Linked DNA regions of Homo sapiens. The gene in region 1 interacts genetically with each later gene. Each region holds a gene or a part of one and is shown on either strand. Other genes may lie near its edges.

Region 1 (4,783 bases):
ATGCAGGCGTTCGAGCTGAGGGCCGCGTCACGGAGCCCATGCTGCCTTCGGTTTCTTTTTAGTCCGCAAGTGGGAAATCGATAGTAGTGGACTTCAAACGGCTTCGGACTGTGCAGACGACGGGCAGCGATGGACAGATGCCATTCAGTGTGTGGTGTGTGTGCACGCCTGTGTTTTCTCTTGTTTCATTCTGTTTTTTCTTCCTCCTCGTATGGTATTTCTTTTGTGGGATAACAGCAACAGTTGTGAAGGGCCTGAGATGTTATCCTGTTTCCAAGCTGTGGAGTTAGCTGCCACTTTCATGGATGCTGGCAAAAAATGTAAGATTCCTACGTTAGAGAGGAAGGCTATTTATTACACAGCAACAGCAGTACAGCCAGAGTGGCATTCTTCCCACCAGCCACGGGGCCCTGATTCCTCAGGGTCTTCACCGAGGGCCTCATGAGGCCTGCAGTGGGCTGTGTGGCTGGAGAGGAATCCTGAACTTAGAACACCCAAATCCTTGCTACTGGGAGGCGAGCCTGCCTGCCCTTTGCCCCAGAGGGATGCAGTTTAGCTTACAAGGCTGTCCTCTAAACAGGCATCCTTGTGTAAATGCTTTGAACAAAGCCTTGTCACTGTCTGTGCTTGGAAGACATGCAGAAACATGACACCCATGGAGAACCATCTCCCCACCAGTCATCTGAGAAGTTAGCAGGCTTGTTTTAATGCTGGACAGATGCTTGGCGTGGACAGTCTAAGAGTTAACTAGGCTGCTCAGTATGATAGTGATGGGTGCCCCAGCCCTCCTCATGGAGGTGAGCCGCGCGCATTCAGCTTGTTTCTCATCGAGACAGAGGACAGCATTCTGTTAAGTTTCTGCTGCTGCCATGATAACAGAGCTCGCTGTCACATTCTGGCTCCCGCAGGCTGTGCCCCGGACACAAAGCAACTCTGTCTTTACCCTCGTGAGCGCGGCTTGGGCCATAATAGGACTTTTCTTTCATTTGTATCTATTTCTTATTGTAAGCCTTAGATCATTTATTCCCTTCCTTACACTTCTAGAGGTGAAAGAAAACCCAAGTCTGCCTTTGTAAAACCAAGCTGTGGCCTCAGGAGTCAGGGCTGGGGCACTCAGCCTTCCACCCCCCAGGCCTCCTCTGCCACAGGCCTGCTGCATCCGGCTGCATTTCAGTCGGGCAGCCGGTGGGTTTCCTGACATGCGTGATAAGAGTGGGTTTGAGTTTGGTTTGGCTTGTTTTTTACAGTTGAATTCTATATTATTTGGTCAAAATATTACTTTGCAATTTGCAAATGTGGTGGCACCTACCATTTTACTAGCCACAAGTAACTCATAAGTTGACGTAGGACCTGCTCATATTATACCAATATTTTAAGTATTTTATGTTTCATCTTATTAGTTATTCATTTTATTTTATCTAATGCTCTGCCAGAATTCATTCCAAAAGGTAAAAATTACTAAACTATAAGACTCTTAAATAAGGCGTGTATATTAGCAACTTAGTTTCTGACATATAGAACATTAACATTCCACTGTATCTTAAATGTCTTTTGCCTTTTTATTAAAAAATGATTAAATGGTTACTGAAGTTTTCCTCTGCCTGACATATAAATGTCTTCATATTCTAACATGATATTAGGGAACTAAATATATGAGTATAGACTTAATATTTCTTTTGTCAACTAAACTGACTAAATTTTGTCAAAGCAGATTGGAGACATAAAAACAGCTGAAAAGTATTTTCAAGACGTTGAGAAAGTAACACAGAAATTAGATGGACTACAGGGTAAAATCATGGTTTTGATGAACAGGTAAATATTTTAAAACTAAATATATGTTTTCTCAAATTTCCCAGAGGCGTTCAAGCCCCACTTACTGAGTTGGAAAGCTCCCTAGAGAAGGCGCTTCTCCCTGTATCTCCTCTTGCCCTGTGTCTCTCAGAGCGGAGACCCAAGGAGTATACAGGTGTTTTCTTGAATCGCAGTGATGTTCTTTTAGTCACAGAAGCTGATTTTTAAGGAGCTATTCCCCCTTGTTCTTCAGAGAAGCGCTTGTATTGCCCCCGTTTTCAGCGTATGTGTGTGTAAAGGTCACCATTGCTGGCGTAGCGGCCGTTCTGGATCCTGTGCTCTGGTGTTCTGTGTCTGGATCCCGTGCTCTGGTGTTCTGTGTCTGGATCCCGTGCTCTGGTGTTCTGTGGTAGAACGCACAGCGTCGTGCGAGTGCACGTTCGTGAGGAGGAAACACGCCTTGGACAAAGCCTGCAGCCAGGATCAGAAAGCGTAAATAAAGCAGGTGTCCGCTTTTAGCAGGAAGTCATTTAGGTGAAGTTACTCTATCTCAATTAACAAAAACTAGAGTGGCTTGGCCGGGTGCAGTGGCTCATGCCTGTAATCTCAGCACTTTGGGAAGCTGAGGCACGTAGATCACTTGAGGTCAGGAGTTTGAGGCCAGCCTGGCCAACATGGTGAAACCCCATCTCTACTAAAAATACAAAAAATTAGCCAGGCGTGGTGGCAGTCGCCTGTAATCCCAGCTACTTGGGAGGCTGAGGCAGGAGAGTTGCTTGAATCCAGGAGGCGGAGGTTGCGGTGAGCCGAGATCGTGCCACTGCACTACAGCCTGGGCAACGAGAGCAAAACTCCATCTAAAAAATAAAAATAAATAAAAACTAGAGTGGCTTTAATGTGCGAGCCTGAATGCAAAACGCAGCTCACCGCCTCTACCTGGAGATCAGGAACCCCGGGCCACACAGGGCCATACGCTGGGTCTCTGTGGGATCCAAAGCCCCTGTGGGTTGTGTTGGGGGACAGCAGCTCCTGGGCTTTCCCCGCTAACTGCCACCGTTGCTTGTGTTACAGCGCGTTCCTTCACCTCGGGCAGAATAACTTTGCAGAAGCCCACAGGTTCTTCACAGAGATCTTAAGGATGGATCCAAGAAACGCAGTGGTAAGATCCCCAAGCTGCAGGATCCTCCATCCTCTGCCTTTCACAGACGCTAGAAACATACACCCACACACGTCTCAGCAGGGGCCTGCGCTCTCTCTCTCCAGTCCACCAGCTCCAGGCAGTGGCTGTGGCCCTTAGGGGAAGTGACCCAACAGGGCCACCTAGGCTCTGCCCAGCAGCTCTGCACCACCCCCAGGCCCCTAACACGGCCCAGCACGCAGCCTGGAATGGGCGGGCGTCTGTCCTGGTTGTGTGGGCCAACCCTGGGCGTGTGCTCCTCCCTAGGCCAACAACAACGCTGCCGTGTGTCTGCTCTACCTGGGCAAGCTCAAGGACTCCCTGCGGCAGCTGGAGGCCATGGTCCAGCAGGACCCCAGGCACTACCTGCACGAGAGCGTGCTCTTCAACCTGACCACCATGTACGAGCTGGAGTCCTCACGGAGCATGCAGAAGAAACAGGCCCTGCTGGAGGCTGTCGCCGGCAAGGAGGGGGACAGCTTCAACACACAGTGCCTCAAGCTGGCCTAGCTGCCTCCAACACACTACGTCAGAAGGACCCGGGTCTTTGAAACTGTGTCTTGAAGCTAATGTATTAATGTGACATGGAGGAACTCAATAAAACTCCTGCTTCACTGGTGTCTGCTGCGTGTCTTCTTGGTCCCAAGCCACGGCCCAGCCCAGGACTTCCCCGCAGTTGGTCGGCGTTCAGCCACGCAGTCCCTGCAGCTGGGTCACTGTTCATGAATGCAAGGGGCAGGCGTGCTGGGAGGACACAGCTCGTAGACAGGAAATCTGGAGTCAGCCTCGGGGCCTCTGTTCTGGAGGCCAATCCTGCTTTGCTCGTTCCTTCTGGACATCCTCAGAGAAAAGCTGGGAGGTGTGGAGACCCTCTCGCCGTGCACCTGCACGTACAGGGAGATTTACAACAGGGAAGACACCCCCCACAGATCGCCGCTCATGCTCCTCTTGCCCTCCCCACACACCCAAAACTAAGTGCGTTGGTCTTACCCATCCGAGTCTCCTCCAGCCTGATGCCAGCCAAACGACCCCTGCCAGCCTGGCGGTGGAGGAGAGGCCATCACTGTTTCTCCCATAGTTTATACGTCCACGTGGAGAGTGAGCTGAGTGGAACAGGAAGCACGACGCATAATGAAGCACAGGAAGAGCGCGTAAAACGCAGGCAGGCAGGGGCTGGGGGTGGTTTTGAAGCCAGACACGTGTTTTCATGTGTTCTCTCATGCCTGAAAGGCCTTTTGCCCTTACGTTTACACAGTTATTCCTGCTTTTGAAGAACTTAAAGTACCTGAAAATGTCTTCACTTTACGAAAGAACTCTGCCAAGGGTTCTCTAAATATCTAGCTTTGTGGATAGTTTTAAATATAATTCATTTTACAGACTGTGATATAAACATTTGCACAAAGCGAAGCCATATTTCTGTTAATTTTTGTAATAGAGTAGAAACATACAAACACTGCATCTACCAGACAGTCTCAGCCCATTTGCTGACATCTAGATTAATTATGCATTAAAAGAAAAGAAAAAAGAGGTGAGACAGCCAAAAGGACTGTTGGACACCAAGGAGGTTTCAAGATCTTTCTCTTCAAAAAGAGAACTGAAACTATTGTTAAGCCCAGAAAGATGAAGATGTAATTAGAAGCCCTCCACCTTGAGGGTCTTCCTTCAAATGTGACTTCAGGGATGAAGTGTAAGGCTCTTCCTCTGCTCCAACCTGGCACCTTACTGCAGGCATCTTACAGGATTTGCCAGAGGATTATGGAGCCCGTCCTTTACAGGCTCGGGGCTCAGAGCTGTCCCCGGCCAGTTGTGCGGGAA
Region 2 (5,109 bases), on another chromosome or scaffold:
ACTGTAGCTTGGGCAACAGAGCAAGAGTCTGTCTTGGAAAGAGCAAAAGTAAGTTGCTGTTTGTATTTCCAGGCCTTGGACAAGATTCGCTATGAGAGCCTGACAGACCCTTCGAAGTTGGACAGTGGTAAAGAGCTGAAAATTGACATCATCCCCAACCCTCAGGAACGTACCCTGACTTTGGTAGACACAGGCATTGGCATGACCAAAGCTGATCTCATAAATAATTTGGGAACCATTGCCAAGTCTGGTACTAAAGCATTCATGGAGGCTCTTCAGGTATTGCAGTTCTGTAGGCATTCATACTTATCTGTGTTCTTTGGTTTTTTGCTTCTTTAAAACTTGTGATTGACTTTAAACTTGTTGGCAGGCTGGTGCAGACATCTCCATGATTGGGCAGTTTGGTGTTGGCTTTTATTCTGCCTACTTGGTGGCAGAGAAAGTGGTTGTGATCACAAAGCACAACGATGATGAACAGTATGCTTGGGAGTCTTCTGCTGGAGGTTCCTTCACTGTGCGTGCTGACCATGGTAAGTTAGCTTTTCTGTTACAAGGTAGTTGGGTTAGGATTTTCTGGGCTCACACCAGTAGCAGAAATTTTGGGCATCCTGTCTGTAAAGCAGTTCTTCACAGCAGTTCTGCTGATACTTACTAATTGCTGGTCTCAACTGCATATACTTTTTACCCTGTTACACGCTTGTAATTGACTCTTCTAGGTGAGCCCATTGGCAGGGGTACCAAAGTGATCCTCCATCTTAAAGAAGATCAGACAGAGTACCTAGAAGAGAGGCGGGTCAAAGAAGTAGTGAAGAAGCATTCTCAGTTCATAGGCTATCCCATCACCCTTTATGTGAGTATGGACTTTTAAATCTTTTACACTTAACGTGCAGGATGTTTCCTGTTCTGGAGAATCTCATTGTCCCTGGCTTTTGCTTTCCCTGGTAGTGTTTTGTACTCCAAGGCTAACTTCTGTTTTTGTTACTTAGTTGGAGAAGGAACGAGAGAAGGAAATTAGTGATGATGAGGCAGAGGAAGAGAAAGGTGAGAAAGAAGAGGAAGATAAAGATGATGAAGAAAAACCCAAGATCGAAGATGTGGGTTCAGATGAGGAGGATGACAGCGGTAAGGATAAGAAGAAGAAAACTAAGAAGATCAAAGAGAAATACATTGATCAGGAAGAACTAAACAAGACCAAGCCTATTTGGACCAGAAACCCTGATGACATCACCCAAGAGGAGTATGGAGAATTCTACAAGAGCCTCACTAATGACTGGGAAGACCACTTGGCAGTCAAGGTGTGAGAAGCCTTTGCATGTTGGCTCAACATGCACATATGGAGAGGAATGAGTTAGGTGGAAGAGTGTTGGGTAATAGACACACGGAACTTGTCCAACTGATAACAGAAATGTGATAGCCATGTGATTTCACTTACTGATTACCCTGTCATAGTGAAGTGCCATCATTTCTAATGACCTCACTTTCTCTTCTTATGGAAATCTGGGTAATGTCTATTGGCAGCCTTACACATCCAGGGTTCTGATCAGAGGGGACTGTTTTCTACATACAGCTAGTACCCATCTAGATCGTGGAGGGCATTAAGGCTCAGTTTTCTCAGGAGCTGCTTGTTGTGTGTGCTCTATCCCTTAGGCTTAGGGAGGATCATTGTTCCACTTTTAGATAATTTGGTGTTGGGGCTAAAAGGTCCTCTTTTGAAATGTACCACTTATTTTTGGTTTCTTTCAGCACTTTTCTGTAGAAGGTCAGTTGGAATTCAGGGCATTGCTATTTATTCCTCGTCGGGCTCCCTTTGACCTTTTTGAGAACAAGAAGAAAAAGAACAACATCAAACTCTATGTCCGCCGTGTGTTCATCATGGACAGCTGTGATGAGTTGATACCAGAGTATCTCAGTGAGTATCTCCTTGGCCTAATTTAGTTGGGTGAAGTCTTGGGAGGTTTTAGGCATTCTGCTAGGATATTCTAAGGTAACAGTTTTCTGCAATACATAGTAGGTGTAAGGGTTCAGGAGGCTATTAGAGCCTTCTGTTTGAATCTGGGGACCAGGTCTGGTCTAGCTGTTTTTTACTGAGCTTTCTCACCCTGGTTGATGGCAGATTTTATCCGTGGTGTGGTTGACTCTGAGGATCTGCCCCTGAACATCTCCCGAGAAATGCTCCAGCAGAGCAAAATCTTGAAAGTCATTCGCAAAAACATTGTTAAGAAGTGCCTTGAGCTCTTCTCTGAGCTGGCAGAAGACAAGGAGAATTACAAGAAATTCTATGAGGCATTCTCTAAAAATCTCAAGGTAAAAAGGCAAATAATGCTTATTCCCTTTACCACTTTCTTAGTAATAACAATAAATTATTCCATTCACATTGAAAGTGAAGTTATTGTAGTTAAGCTGGATTGTTTTTCCTCTTCCCACCCTTCAAGCTTGGAATCCACGAAGACTCCACTAACCGCCGCCGCCTGTCTGAGCTGCTGCGCTATCATACCTCCCAGTCTGGAGATGAGATGACATCTCTGTCAGAGTATGTTTCTCGCATGAAGGAGACACAGAAGTCCATCTATTACATCACTGGTGCGTTGACTCTGATTGAAGCCTTTTTGGAGGAGTGGGGAGCACAATTAGGGCTTCCTGGGAACTGGCAGTATGAGGCATTTTAGTCACTGAGTTCATTTAATTACCCTACAGGTGAGAGCAAAGAGCAGGTGGCCAACTCAGCTTTTGTGGAGCGAGTGCGGAAACGGGGCTTCGAGGTGGTATATATGACCGAGCCCATTGACGAGTACTGTGTGCAGCAGCTCAAGGAATTTGATGGGAAGAGCCTGGTCTCAGTTACCAAGGAGGGTCTGGAGCTGCCTGAGGATGAGGAGGAGAAGAAGAAGATGGAAGAGAGCAAGGCAAAGTTTGAGAACCTCTGCAAGCTCATGAAAGAAATCTTAGATAAGAAGGTTGAGAAGGTAAGCCATTCTGGGGCTAGGATATATTTTGTAACATCTTCGAGGTGGGCTCCCTCACAAGCATGTTTCTATACAATTAGTGGTTTGAGGCAGCCTATTTACTGTTTCATGCCTTCTTGCCTCTTGTTCTCTTCTCTAGTCAGGTTTAAGGCTATTTTAATAAAATTTGGCACAGATTAGGCATTGCTTCAGTTAACTTCTGAGAGTAGATAAAATACCATCATTTTCTTTTTTTTTTCTTTTTTTGAGATGGGGTCTCGCTCTGTCACCCAGGCTGGAGTGCAGTGGCACGATCTCTGCTCATTGCAAGCTCCGCCTCCTGGGTTCACGCCATTCTCCTGCCTTAGCCTCCTGAGTAGCTGCCACTACAGGCGCCCGCCACCACACCCCGGCTAATTTTTTGTATTTTTAGTAGAGATGGGGTTTCATCGCGTTAGCCAGGATGGTCTCCATCTCCTGACCTTGTGATTCGCCCACCTCGGCCTCCCAAAGTGCTGGGATTAACAGGCGCAAGCCACCATGCCTGGCCGATTTTTTTTTTTTTTGGACTGGATCTCGCTCACTGCAAACTCAAGTCTCCTGAGTGGCTGGGATTACAGATGTGTGCTACCACACCCGGTTAATTTTTTGTAGACAGGGTTTTGCCATGTTGGCCAGCATGGTCTCAAACTCAAGTGGTCTGTCCACCTCCTCCCCCTGCTGGAATTAGGCTTGACAATGCCTGTTTTCTCTTTCAAAGTGGTAATGTCAATCTAAGGCTTTTGTGATCGTCCACAGGTGACAATCTCCAATAGACTTGTGTCTTCACCTTGCTGCATTGTGACCAGCACCTACGGCTGGACAGCCAATATGGAGCGGATCATGAAAGCCCAGGCACTTCGGGACAACTCCACCATGGGCTATATGATGGCCAAAAAGCACCTGGAGATCAACCCTGACCACCCCATTGTGGAGACGCTGCGGCAGAAGGCTGAGGCCGACAAGAATGATAAGGCAGTTAAGGACCTGGTGGTGCTGCTGTTTGAAACCGCCCTGCTATCTTCTGGCTTTTCCCTTGAGGATCCCCAGACCCACTCCAACCGCATCTATCGCATGATCAAGCTAGGTCTAGGTAAGTAGCTTTGGTACTTGGTGTGGCAAGGAGTTTGTGCAACTCGTCTCCTCTATGGATTTGACTTAATGCTATTTGGTCAAGTCTCACATGGCTTAATTTTACTTCAGGTATTGATGAAGATGAAGTGGCAGCAGAGGAACCCAATGCTGCAGTTCCTGATGAGATCCCCCCTCTCGAGGGCGATGAGGATGCGTCTCGCATGGAAGAAGTCGATTAGGTTAGGAGTTCATAGTTGGAAAACTTGTGCCCTTGTATAGTGTCCCCATGGGCTCCCACTGCAGCCTCGAGTGCCCCTGTCCCACCTGGCTCCCCCTGCTGGTGTCTAGTGTTTTTTTCCCTCTCCTGTCCTTGTGTTGAAGGCAGTAAACTAAGGGTGTCAAGCCCCATTCCCTCTCTACTCTTGACAGCAGGATTGGATGTTGTGTATTGTGGTTTATTTTATTTTCTTCATTTTGTTCTGAAATTAAAGTATGCAAAATAAAGAATATGCCGTTTTTATACAGTTCTGCTTTCCCTTGTGAAGTGGATGTTATCCTTCCCTAGCTTCTTCATCCCTCCAGCTCTTGCTGTTTTCATGAGCACAGCAAGTTGAGCTGGTTTTGTAGTGAAAATAACAGAATACCAGTGAGTCTTAAGAGTTCACACACTGAAGCTAAAGGCAGTTTGGAAAAACTACCATATAATAATGCCCTTTCAGTCAACCAAAACACAGGACCAAGTCCACTGCAGTAATTTAATTTAATAAAATAAAATTATAAGAGCAAAAAGTTACATTTCTAAAGTACCAAAACCTGCAACAGGCTCATGGAACAGAGCCTAGGGATCCAGGAGCATAGGAGGTGGTGGTGCTGGGCAGGGCTCTGCATCCCCTTTCCTCAGCACAGCACCATCTTCACCCTCCTGGGAAAGCAGCATTGGAGCCTACACCGCTTGTGCTTTTCTCACCAGGGTAAGAAATGCAGGTATTTGCAGAGGGGAGTGAGTCTGGAAGGTGGCAGAGCACAGCTAGGGCAAGACTTAAGGGAACTTGTG

What was found. A genetic interaction does not mean that the proteins touch.
Region 2: changes in TRAPPC12 (region 1) and HSP90AB1 together harm fitness more than expected from each alone (negative genetic interaction), as found in Homo sapiens cells (one large-scale study listed by BioGRID).

What each region holds. Positions count from the first base shown.
Region 1 is NC_000002.12:3,475,984-3,480,766, forward strand, and holds the end of TRAPPC12 (trafficking protein particle complex subunit 12), read left to right. Parts: intron 1-1,711; coding exon 1,712-1,812; intron 1,813-2,609; exon of another isoform or gene 2,610-2,862; coding exon 2,863-2,950; exon of another isoform or gene 2,951-3,235; coding exon 3,236-3,478; 3' UTR 3,479-3,582; downstream 3,583-4,783. UniProt on the Homo sapiens protein: Component of the TRAPP complex, which is involved in endoplasmic reticulum to Golgi apparatus trafficking at a very early stage.
Region 2 is NC_000006.12:44,249,305-44,254,413, forward strand, and holds the end of HSP90AB1 (heat shock protein HSP 90-beta), read left to right. Parts: intron 1-72; coding exon 73-279; intron 280-370; coding exon 371-530; intron 531-716; coding exon 717-850; intron 851-986; coding exon 987-1,295; intron 1,296-1,743; coding exon 1,744-1,909; intron 1,910-2,113; coding exon 2,114-2,304; intron 2,305-2,432; coding exon 2,433-2,580; intron 2,581-2,694; coding exon 2,695-2,963; intron 2,964-3,740; coding exon 3,741-4,074; intron 4,075-4,184; coding exon 4,185-4,294; 3' UTR 4,295-4,579; downstream 4,580-5,109. UniProt on the Homo sapiens protein: Molecular chaperone that promotes the maturation, structural maintenance and proper regulation of specific target proteins involved for instance in cell cycle control and signal transduction. Undergoes a functional cycle linked to its ATPase activity.